3 separate regions of the Homo sapiens genome follow, and all the other regions are linked to region 2. The links come from fine-mapping of genetic effects on gene expression. A gene starts in region 2. Each other region holds a variant in brackets. All regions are shown on one strand. Distances are from middle to middle.

What was found. PIP is the estimated chance that this variant, and not a neighbour inherited with it, causes the effect. A credible set is the group of variants that fine-mapping cannot tell apart.
Region 1: its variant is the best candidate, but not a certain one, in a credible set for the expression of METTL27 in testis (GTEx, PIP 0.82).
Region 3: its variant is the best candidate, but not a certain one, in a credible set for the expression of METTL27 in subcutaneous fat (GTEx, PIP 0.66).

The regions. Positions count from the first base shown.
Region 1 is chr7:73,781,313-73,784,068 of GRCh38, reverse strand. No RefSeq gene overlaps it. Among named protein-coding and RNA genes, the nearest start is that of CLDN3, 12 kb to the right of the region's middle. The variant C/T (reference allele first, on the strand shown) is at 1,571.
Region 2 is chr7:73,841,273-73,844,028 of GRCh38, reverse strand. It overlaps METTL27 (methyltransferase like 27), which reads left to right and starts at 1,513. Exons shown (of 6, transcript NM_152559.3): 1 at 1,513-1,539; 2 at 1,885-2,011. The coding sequence starts at 1,889. RefSeq lists a silencer at 1,355-1,454 and an enhancer at 1,575-1,874.
Region 3 is chr7:73,808,581-73,811,336 of GRCh38, reverse strand. No RefSeq gene overlaps it. Among named protein-coding and RNA genes, the nearest start is that of CLDN4, 21 kb to the left of the region's middle. The variant G/A (reference allele first, on the strand shown) is at 1,056.

The DNA.
Region 1 (2,756 bases), 60 kb after region 2:
TATAGAGTATATTCTGTCACACACTGGAACCAAACTAGAAACCAATAACAGAAAAAGAGGGCTGGGCGCGGTGGCTCACGCCTGTAATCCCAGCACTTTGGGAGGCCGAGGTGGGCGGATCACGAGGTCAGGAGATCAAGACCATCCTGGCTAACACGGTGTCACCCCATTTCTACTAAACAAAATACAAAAACTTAGCCGGGCGTGGTGGCAGGCCCCTGTAGTCCCAGCTACTCCAGAGGCTGAGGCAGGAGAATGAGGTGAACCCAGGAGGCGGAGCTTGCAGTGAGCCGAGATCAAGCCACTGCACTCCAGCCTGGGCGACAGAGCGAGACTCCATCCCAAAAAAAAAAAAAAGAAAAGAAAAGAAAATAACAGGAAGATCTGCAAACTCTTGTGAACCAAACCACATACTTCTAAATAATCCATAGCTCAAGAGGAAATCATAGGTTTCCTCCTGTGTATTTTCAAAAAATACACTTAAGTAAATGAAAATTAAAATACAACATATCCAAATGGTGGCACGCACATAAAGCAATGCTGATAAGGAAATTTATAGCATTAGATGCATACATCAGAAAAGAGGGAAAGTCCCAAATCAATAATCTAATCTGTCACATCAAGAACCTAGAAAAAAAGCCAGGTGTGGTGATGCATGCCTGTAGTCCCAGTCACTTGGGAGGCTGAGGCAGAAGTTCAAGGCAAAAGTTGCCTGAGCCTTTGGCCGGGCTCAGTGGCTCACACCTAAAATCCATCGCCAGCATGATGAAACCCCCGTCTCTACTAAAAATACAAAAAATTAGCTGGGCGTGGTGGCGTACGCCTGTAATCCCAGCTACTCAGGAGGCTGAGGCAGGAGAATCACTTGATCCCAGGAGGTGGAGGTTGCAGTGAGCCAAGATCACACCACTGCACTCCAGCCTGGGCAACAAGATCAAAACTGTCTCAAAAAAAAAAAAAGAAGAAGAAGAAGTTGCCTGAGCCCAGAAGTCCAAGGCTGTAATAAGCTATGATCGCACCTTTGTACTCTAGCCTGGGTGACAGAGCAAGACAAGACTCCATCTTTATAAAAAATCTAAATAAAGAATAGAAGAACCTAGAAAACAAGAGCCAAATAAATACAAAGCAAGTAGAAGGAAGGAAATATAAAGATAAGAGCAAAAACTAGTGAAATTGAAAACAGAAATTTTTTTGCATAGAAAAATATCAATGAAACAAAAAAGTAACTGAAAAAATCAGTAAAATTGACTAACTTCTAGCAAGACCAACAGAAAAAAGAAGACACAATTTATCAATAGAAATGAAACATGGGCCTGGGCATGGTGGCTCACACCTGTAATCCCAGCACTTTGGGAGGCTGAGGCGGGCAGATCATCTGAGGTTAGGAGTTCAGGACAAGCCTAACTAACATGGTGAAACCCCGTCTCTACTAAAAATACAAAAATTAGCTGGGCATAGTGGCAGGCGCCTGTAATCCCAGCTACTCGGGAGGCTGAGGCAAGAGAATCGCTTGAACCTGGAGGCGGAGGTTGCAGTGAGCCGAGATCACACCATTGCACTCCAGCCTGGG[C/T]GACAGAGCAAGACTCCGTCTCAAAAAAAAAAAAAATGAAACACAGGCTATTACGACAGATCCTACAGACACGTAAAGGATAATAAGAGGACACTATGAACAACTCTATGAATAAGGGAACGCATAAATTCAACAACTTAGTTAAAATAGCCCAGTTCCCCCAAAAAACACAAACTACAACAACCCATCTATTATGAAATAGATAATTTGAGTGGCCTTATATCTATTGAGGAAATTAAATTTGCAATTTTAAAACTCAGAAAAGAATCAACAGGCCTAATTTTCTTTGGAAAATGCTACCAAACGTTTAAAGAAGAATTAATACCATTTGATATAGTTAGGATGCTTGTCCCCACTCAAATCTCATGTTGAGATGTAATCCCCAGTGTTGGAGGTGTGGGCCTGATGGGAGGTGTATGGATCATGGAGATGGATTCCTCATCAATGGCTTGGGCCATCCTTTTGGTAATGAATGAGTTCTTGCTCTGGGTTCACATCAGATCTGGTCATTTAAAAGTGTGTGGCAGCTGGGCACAGTGGCTCATACCTGTAATTCCAGCACTTTGGGAGGCTGAGGTGGGTGGATCACTTGAGATCAGGAGTTTGAGACCAGCTTGGGCAACATGGTGAAATCCTGTCTCTACTAATAATACAAAAATTAGCTGTGCGTGGTGGTGCACACCTGTAATCCCAGCTACTTAGGAGGTGAGGCAGGAGAATCGCTTGAACCTAGGAGGCAGAGGTTGCAGTGAGCCAACATCATGCCATTGCACTCCAGCCTGGGCGACAAGAGCAAAACTCAAAAAAAAAAAAAAAAGTATGTGACATACCCCTGCACTCTCTCTCTTTTTCCTCCTTTTGCCATGTGACGTGATTGCTCCCTCTTTGACTTTGCTATGATTGAAAGCTTCCTGAGGCCTCCCCAGAAGTCGAGCAGATGTCAGCACCATGCTTCCTGTAAAGCCTGCTGAACCATGAACCAATTAAACCTCTTTTCTTATAAATTACCCAGTCTCAGGTATATCTTTATAGCAATGCAAGAAAGGCCTAATACACCATTTCTATGCAGTCTCTTCCAGAACACAGAAGAAAGGAGAACATTTCCCAGTTCATTTTATTTAGTATTACCCTGATATCAAAATTAGACAAAGACAGTACAAAAAAAAAACTTGAGATTAATACTCTC
Region 2 (2,756 bases):
ATCACCCACTCCTCTCCGCAGTCATGACCTCTACCCAAGGTCATGCAACCATCACCTCCTGCCTGGACACCTGCAACAGCCTGCCAAATTCTGCCTGCCCAAACCCTTGATTCCAACACAGGTCCTCTAGACCAGCGCTTCTGAACCTTCAGCTGCCTAGAAATCGCCTGCAGAGTTTGTAGAAACACAGAAACTCTGGGCCCCAGTCCCAGAAATCTAATTCTCATTCAGAAGGTCCCAGGTCAACTGAGAATTTTTACTTTTTTTTTTTATTTGAGATGGAGTCTTGCTCTGTCACCCAGGCTGAAGTGCAGTGGCGCAGTCTCTGCTCACTGCAATCTGTGCCTCCCAAGTTCAAGCTATTCTCCCACCTCAGCCTCCTGAGTAGCTGGAATTACAGATGCCCGCCACCACGCCCGGCTAATTTTTGTATTTTTAGTAGAGATGGGGTTTTGTCCTGTTAGCCAGGCTGGTCTCAAACTCCTGTCCTCAAGTGACCCGCCCACCTCAGCCTCCCAAAGTGCTGGGATTACAGGTGTGAGCCACTGCGCCCCGGCCTAATTTTTGCATTTCTCACAAGCTTCCCTAGGGCATCTCCTAGAGGAAACCAAGATGTTACGGAGGCTGACGCTGCGTATCTTCAGGTCACACTTCCAGCCGCAAGACTCTCTCTGCTGTCCAATACAGTAGCCACTAGCCACATGTGGCTATTTAACTTATTAAAATAAAATTTGCCAGTACGGTTTTTTAAAATAAAATTATTAAAATAAAATTTGCCAGGAGGCAGAGGTGGGAGAATCGCTTGAGACTAGGAGTTTAAGACCAGCCTGGACAACATTTTTTGTCTCTACAAAAACTACGAAGATAAAAATAAATAGATAAAAATTTAAAAAGCCGGGCAAGGTGGCATGCACCTGTAGTCCCAGCTACTCAGCTACTCAGAAGGCTGAGGCAGGAGGCTGGCTTGAGCTTGAGTTCAAGGCTGCAGTGAGCTATGGTCAAGCCACTGCACTCCAGCCTGGGCGACAGAGTGAGACCCTGTCTCATAAAACAAAACAAAAATAAAACAAAATAAGTAAATATAAATACAAAGTAAAAATGAAAGCTAATCCTAGGTCCCTCTCCTGCCCATAAGAATTCAGAGACTCCCCAGTGCCTACAAACCTCATGCTTTCAGGAAGCATAAAGGACTTCAGGAGGCAGGAGGGCAGTTGGAGGGGGATGGTGGAGGTGCTGCTACCTGACGGTGGAGGGGGAGGCCGGGGCCAGACCACCGAGAAGCCCCTAAACCCGCACAGCAGGAAAACATCTCCGCAGTCCCTGCTCTACCAAGGCTGGAGGAGGGCCACAAGCCTTGAGCTCATTGGCTGGCGGGGGGGGGGGGGGCGGGCAGACTGCCAGCGCCTTCCTTTGACTGGCTATTTTCTCTCAGCGGAAAACCAATCATTGCGGGCAGGCGGTGAGGGTGTGGCCAGGGTCGCAACACAGGCCCCGCCCCGAGTCCTGTTGCCCACACGCCCGAGGCGCGCTGGATTGGCGGTGAGTTCTGACTCCGGCCTCCTTCGAGACCGTTTCGCTCCGGATGTCGCCCACCTCCGACCCTCTCTCAGTCGGAGGGCGGAAAAGAGGAAGATAGGTCCTTCCTCCAGCCGCGGGGCACCCCCTTCTCCCACCTTGCCCTTCCCCCAGCCCTGCAGCCCCAGAGTGTAAATATCCAAGCCCGCCCTCTCTGCGCTCAGTGTCCCCATCTGGGATAGGGGCCGGGATAGGGGTCGCGCTGGCAGGAGGCCTGGCAGCCTCCTCTGAAGGGGGAGGAGGGAAGGGGGAAAGGAGGGGATGGGCGATTGAGGTGGACCTCGAGACAGGGCAACGGTGTCCCCACAGGAGCATGGCCCAGGAGGAGGGTGGGAGCCTGCCCGAGGTGCGGGCGCGGGTCAGGGCCGCGCATGGCATCCCCGACCTGGCCCAAAAGCTCCATTTCTATGACCGCTGGGCTCCGGACTACGACCAGGTAAACTCATTTGGGGCCTTGCCTCCACTAGACCAGCCTCCATTTTTCTACCTGTAAAGTGGGGAATCAGCCTTGCACCCGGGGGCGGCTGTGAGGACGAAGTGAGGCCTGGCTAAGAACCCTACAGTCCTGCCCCTTCCAGAACCCGCCCCACAGCTCTGGATTGGCAGCCCCATCAGGGGCCATGACCTCCTGAGGGGGGCTGCCTGGAGGAGGTGCTATTGAGAAGTCACTGTGGGGCCGGGCGCGGTGGCTCACAAGCCGTAATCCTAAGCCCTTTGGGAGGCCGAGGCGGGCGGATCACCTGAGGTCAGGAGTTCGAGACCAGCCTGGCCAGCATGGTGCAACCCTGACTCTACTAAAAATACAAAAATTAGCCAGGCCCACGTGGTGGCAGGCGCCTGGTAATCCCAGCTACCCTGGAGGCTGATGCAGGAGAATTGCCTGAATCCGGGACACAGAGGTTGCAGTGAGCCAAGATCTCTTCACTGCACTCCAGCCCGAGTGACAGAGGGAGACTCTGTCTCAAAAAAAAAAAAAAAAAAAGTCATGTGGACTCAGCAGAGAGAGCCGCTTGGCCAGGAGAGAAGGTCCCTGGAGGGCTGAGTCTACTGTACAGTGGGCTGGGGGCTAACTCTCCAGTCCTGGCCCTTTAGCAATGGGAAGCACCTCATGCCTGGGCGTCCCCTCACGCTAGCCCCAGCCAGGCTTGATCCCCAACACACACAGCTTAGCCTGGCAGACT
Region 3 (2,756 bases), 33 kb after region 2:
GGCTGTGGGTCTATCCTTCCCAGGGTCTGGCTGGGAAGGTGATGGCTGCCTGATTCCTGGACTGGGCACGGTGCCCCCTTGGGTGTTTGCGGACGGCACAGCAAGTGTGGCCAAGGCTCTGGGAGAGGCTGAAGAGGTGGCCACCCAGGGGCAGGACTGCCAGGTCCCTGGGAAGGTCAAAAGGCAAGAGGGTAACCCACCCTTGGGGGAGCAGCTATGGCCCCAGGAGTAGGGGAGGATCCCCAGTGGAGGCAGGTGTCACTGCAGCCCTGGGCTAATGGGCTCTGGAAGGTGGGGAGGGGGGTGGGGGCGAGAAAGAAGGGGAGGAGGAGGAGAGGCGGGAGCTGTTCTGAGCCCCTGGGGTGATGTGATTGGCATTGCGGCCCCTTCCTCCTCCCCTCCCCATCACCCTCTCAGCCCCAACCACCCCACCAGGGCCTGGGAGGATGGCAGAAACCCCAGCCACATGTTCATAATGGAATAGAGAGCCAGCCAGGCCAAGACAAGCTGGCAGACCCCAGACATGCCCTGCCCCCACCCTGAGCCCCTTCCCCTCTCTTAGCCGCCTCGCCAAGCCAGGCCCTCCCACCCCAGGGAGCGAGAGGGCAGGGAAGTGACAGGACAGAAGGGTAGGGGACTTTAAGAGGGAGGGGCAGTGGAGGGAGGGGGTGCGGGGGAACTGGGAGGGGAAGGGTCTCCAGGAGAAGAGGAGCTTCAGATAGGGGAGGGGGCTCTTGGAGAGGAATGGGGCTCAGGGAAGAAAGGGGAGCTTACAGAGGGGAGTCTGGGAGTGGAGGGGGCCTGGGGCATAGTCCTGCAGGGGAAGGGGCTCCTGGTGGGCAGAGGGGCTTAAGATATAAACCAGATGTGGCCAGGCGCGGTGGCTAATGCCTGTAATCCCAGAACTTTGGGAGGCCAAGGTGGGCGGATCACTTGAGGTCAGGAGTTCGAGACCAGCCTGGCCAAAATGGTGAAAACCCATCTCTGTTAAAAATACAAAAATTAGCCAGGGCATGGTGGTGCATGCCTGTAGTCCCAGCTACTCAGGAGGCTGA[G/A]GCAGGAGAATCACTTGAACCTGGGAGGCAGAGGTTGAACTAAGCCAAGATTATGCCACTGCACCCCAACCTGGGCGACAGAGCTCGACACTGTGTCAAAAAAAAAATATATATATATATATATATATGTATGTGTGTGTGTATATATATATATATATATGTGTGTATGTGTGTATATATATATATGTATGTGTATGTGTGTGTGTATATATATATATATGTATGTGTATATATATATATGTATAAACCAGATGAGACCAGGAACAGAACAGCCCCCAAGGGTGGGCTCTGGTTTCTGGCCTTAGCTGGAGCTGGGTCCCTGCTGGGCTGGTTTCCCTCTGGGCTGGGCCCCATCTGGGCAGTGCCCTTGGCACGCTCCCAGGCAGCCCCCAGGCTTGGTTTCAGCAGGTCCGGCTGAAAACGGAAGAAACCAAGCTTGGGCAGGGCCTTTTTATGGCTCCCAGTGAAACCGGGCCCTGGGGACAGGGAAGAAGCTTCTCCAGGGCAATGGCGGAATGGTGGGGGTGACTCACTCCTCCCGTCCTGGCTCTGTGACATCTCAGAGCCTGGGAATTACCCAAAAGCAGCCAACCTGGACGGGCCGAGAGAAAACAGTTCCACCCCGCCCTGGCCACTCTCACCTCACCTTCCCACCGTCACTCACACGGAGGGACACGCCACGCCCGGAACTGAGGATACCAGGAATGAGAAACACACACCCTCTCACACAAGCACGAATCCACCTCGAAAGCCAAACACGCCCACCCCATCCCCGGACAGACAGAGGCCACACACGCGCGGCCCTCTGAGCCCCAAACCAAACTCCTCACCTCAAGAGTTCTGCTTCTCAGATGGCCAGTTTAAGAGGCTGCTTAGGGGGCCGGGTACGGTGGCTCACGCCTGTAATCCTAGCACTTTGGGAGGCCAAGGCGAGTGAATCACCTGAGGTCAGGAGTTCGAGACCAGCCTGGCCAACACAGCAAAACCCCGTCTCTACTAAAAATACAAAAATTAGCTGGGAGTGGTGGTAGGTGCCTGTAAGGCTAAGTCAGGAGAATAGCTTGAACCCGGGAGGTGGAGGTTGCAGTGAGCCGAGAAGGCACCACTGCACTCCAGCTGGGGCAACAGAGCAAGACTCTGTCTCAAAAAAAAGAGGCTGCTTAGGGGCTTCAGGGAGCTGGACAGAGAAGGTAAGGAGACTAGGGGCAACAGAGACAGGGAAATGGCAACTGGGGAGGGGCGAACGCCAGTGACCCCACTGCACAGGAAGAAAAACACAAATTGAGTTACGTGGCTTTTTGTTTTTTTGTTTTTTGCACGGGAAGAAAAACACAAATTGAGTTACGTAGTTTTTTGGTTTTTTTGTTTTTTTCTTTTTTGGAGACAGGGTCTCACTATGTTGGCCAGATTGGTTTGAACTCCTGACCTCAAGCAATCCTCCCACCTTGGCCTCCCAAAGTGCTAGGATTACAGGCGTGAGCCCCCACAGCTGGACTGTATTTTTCTTTTTTAAAAAACAGGCCGGGTGGCTCACGGCTGTAATTCCAGCATTTTGGGAGGCCGAGGCGGGTGGATCACAAGGTCAGGAGATCGAGACCATCCTGGCTAACACAGTGAAACCCCATCTCTACTAAAAATACAAAAACTGAGCCGGGCGTGATGGCGGGCTCCTGTAGTCCCAGCTACTCAGGAGGCTGAGGC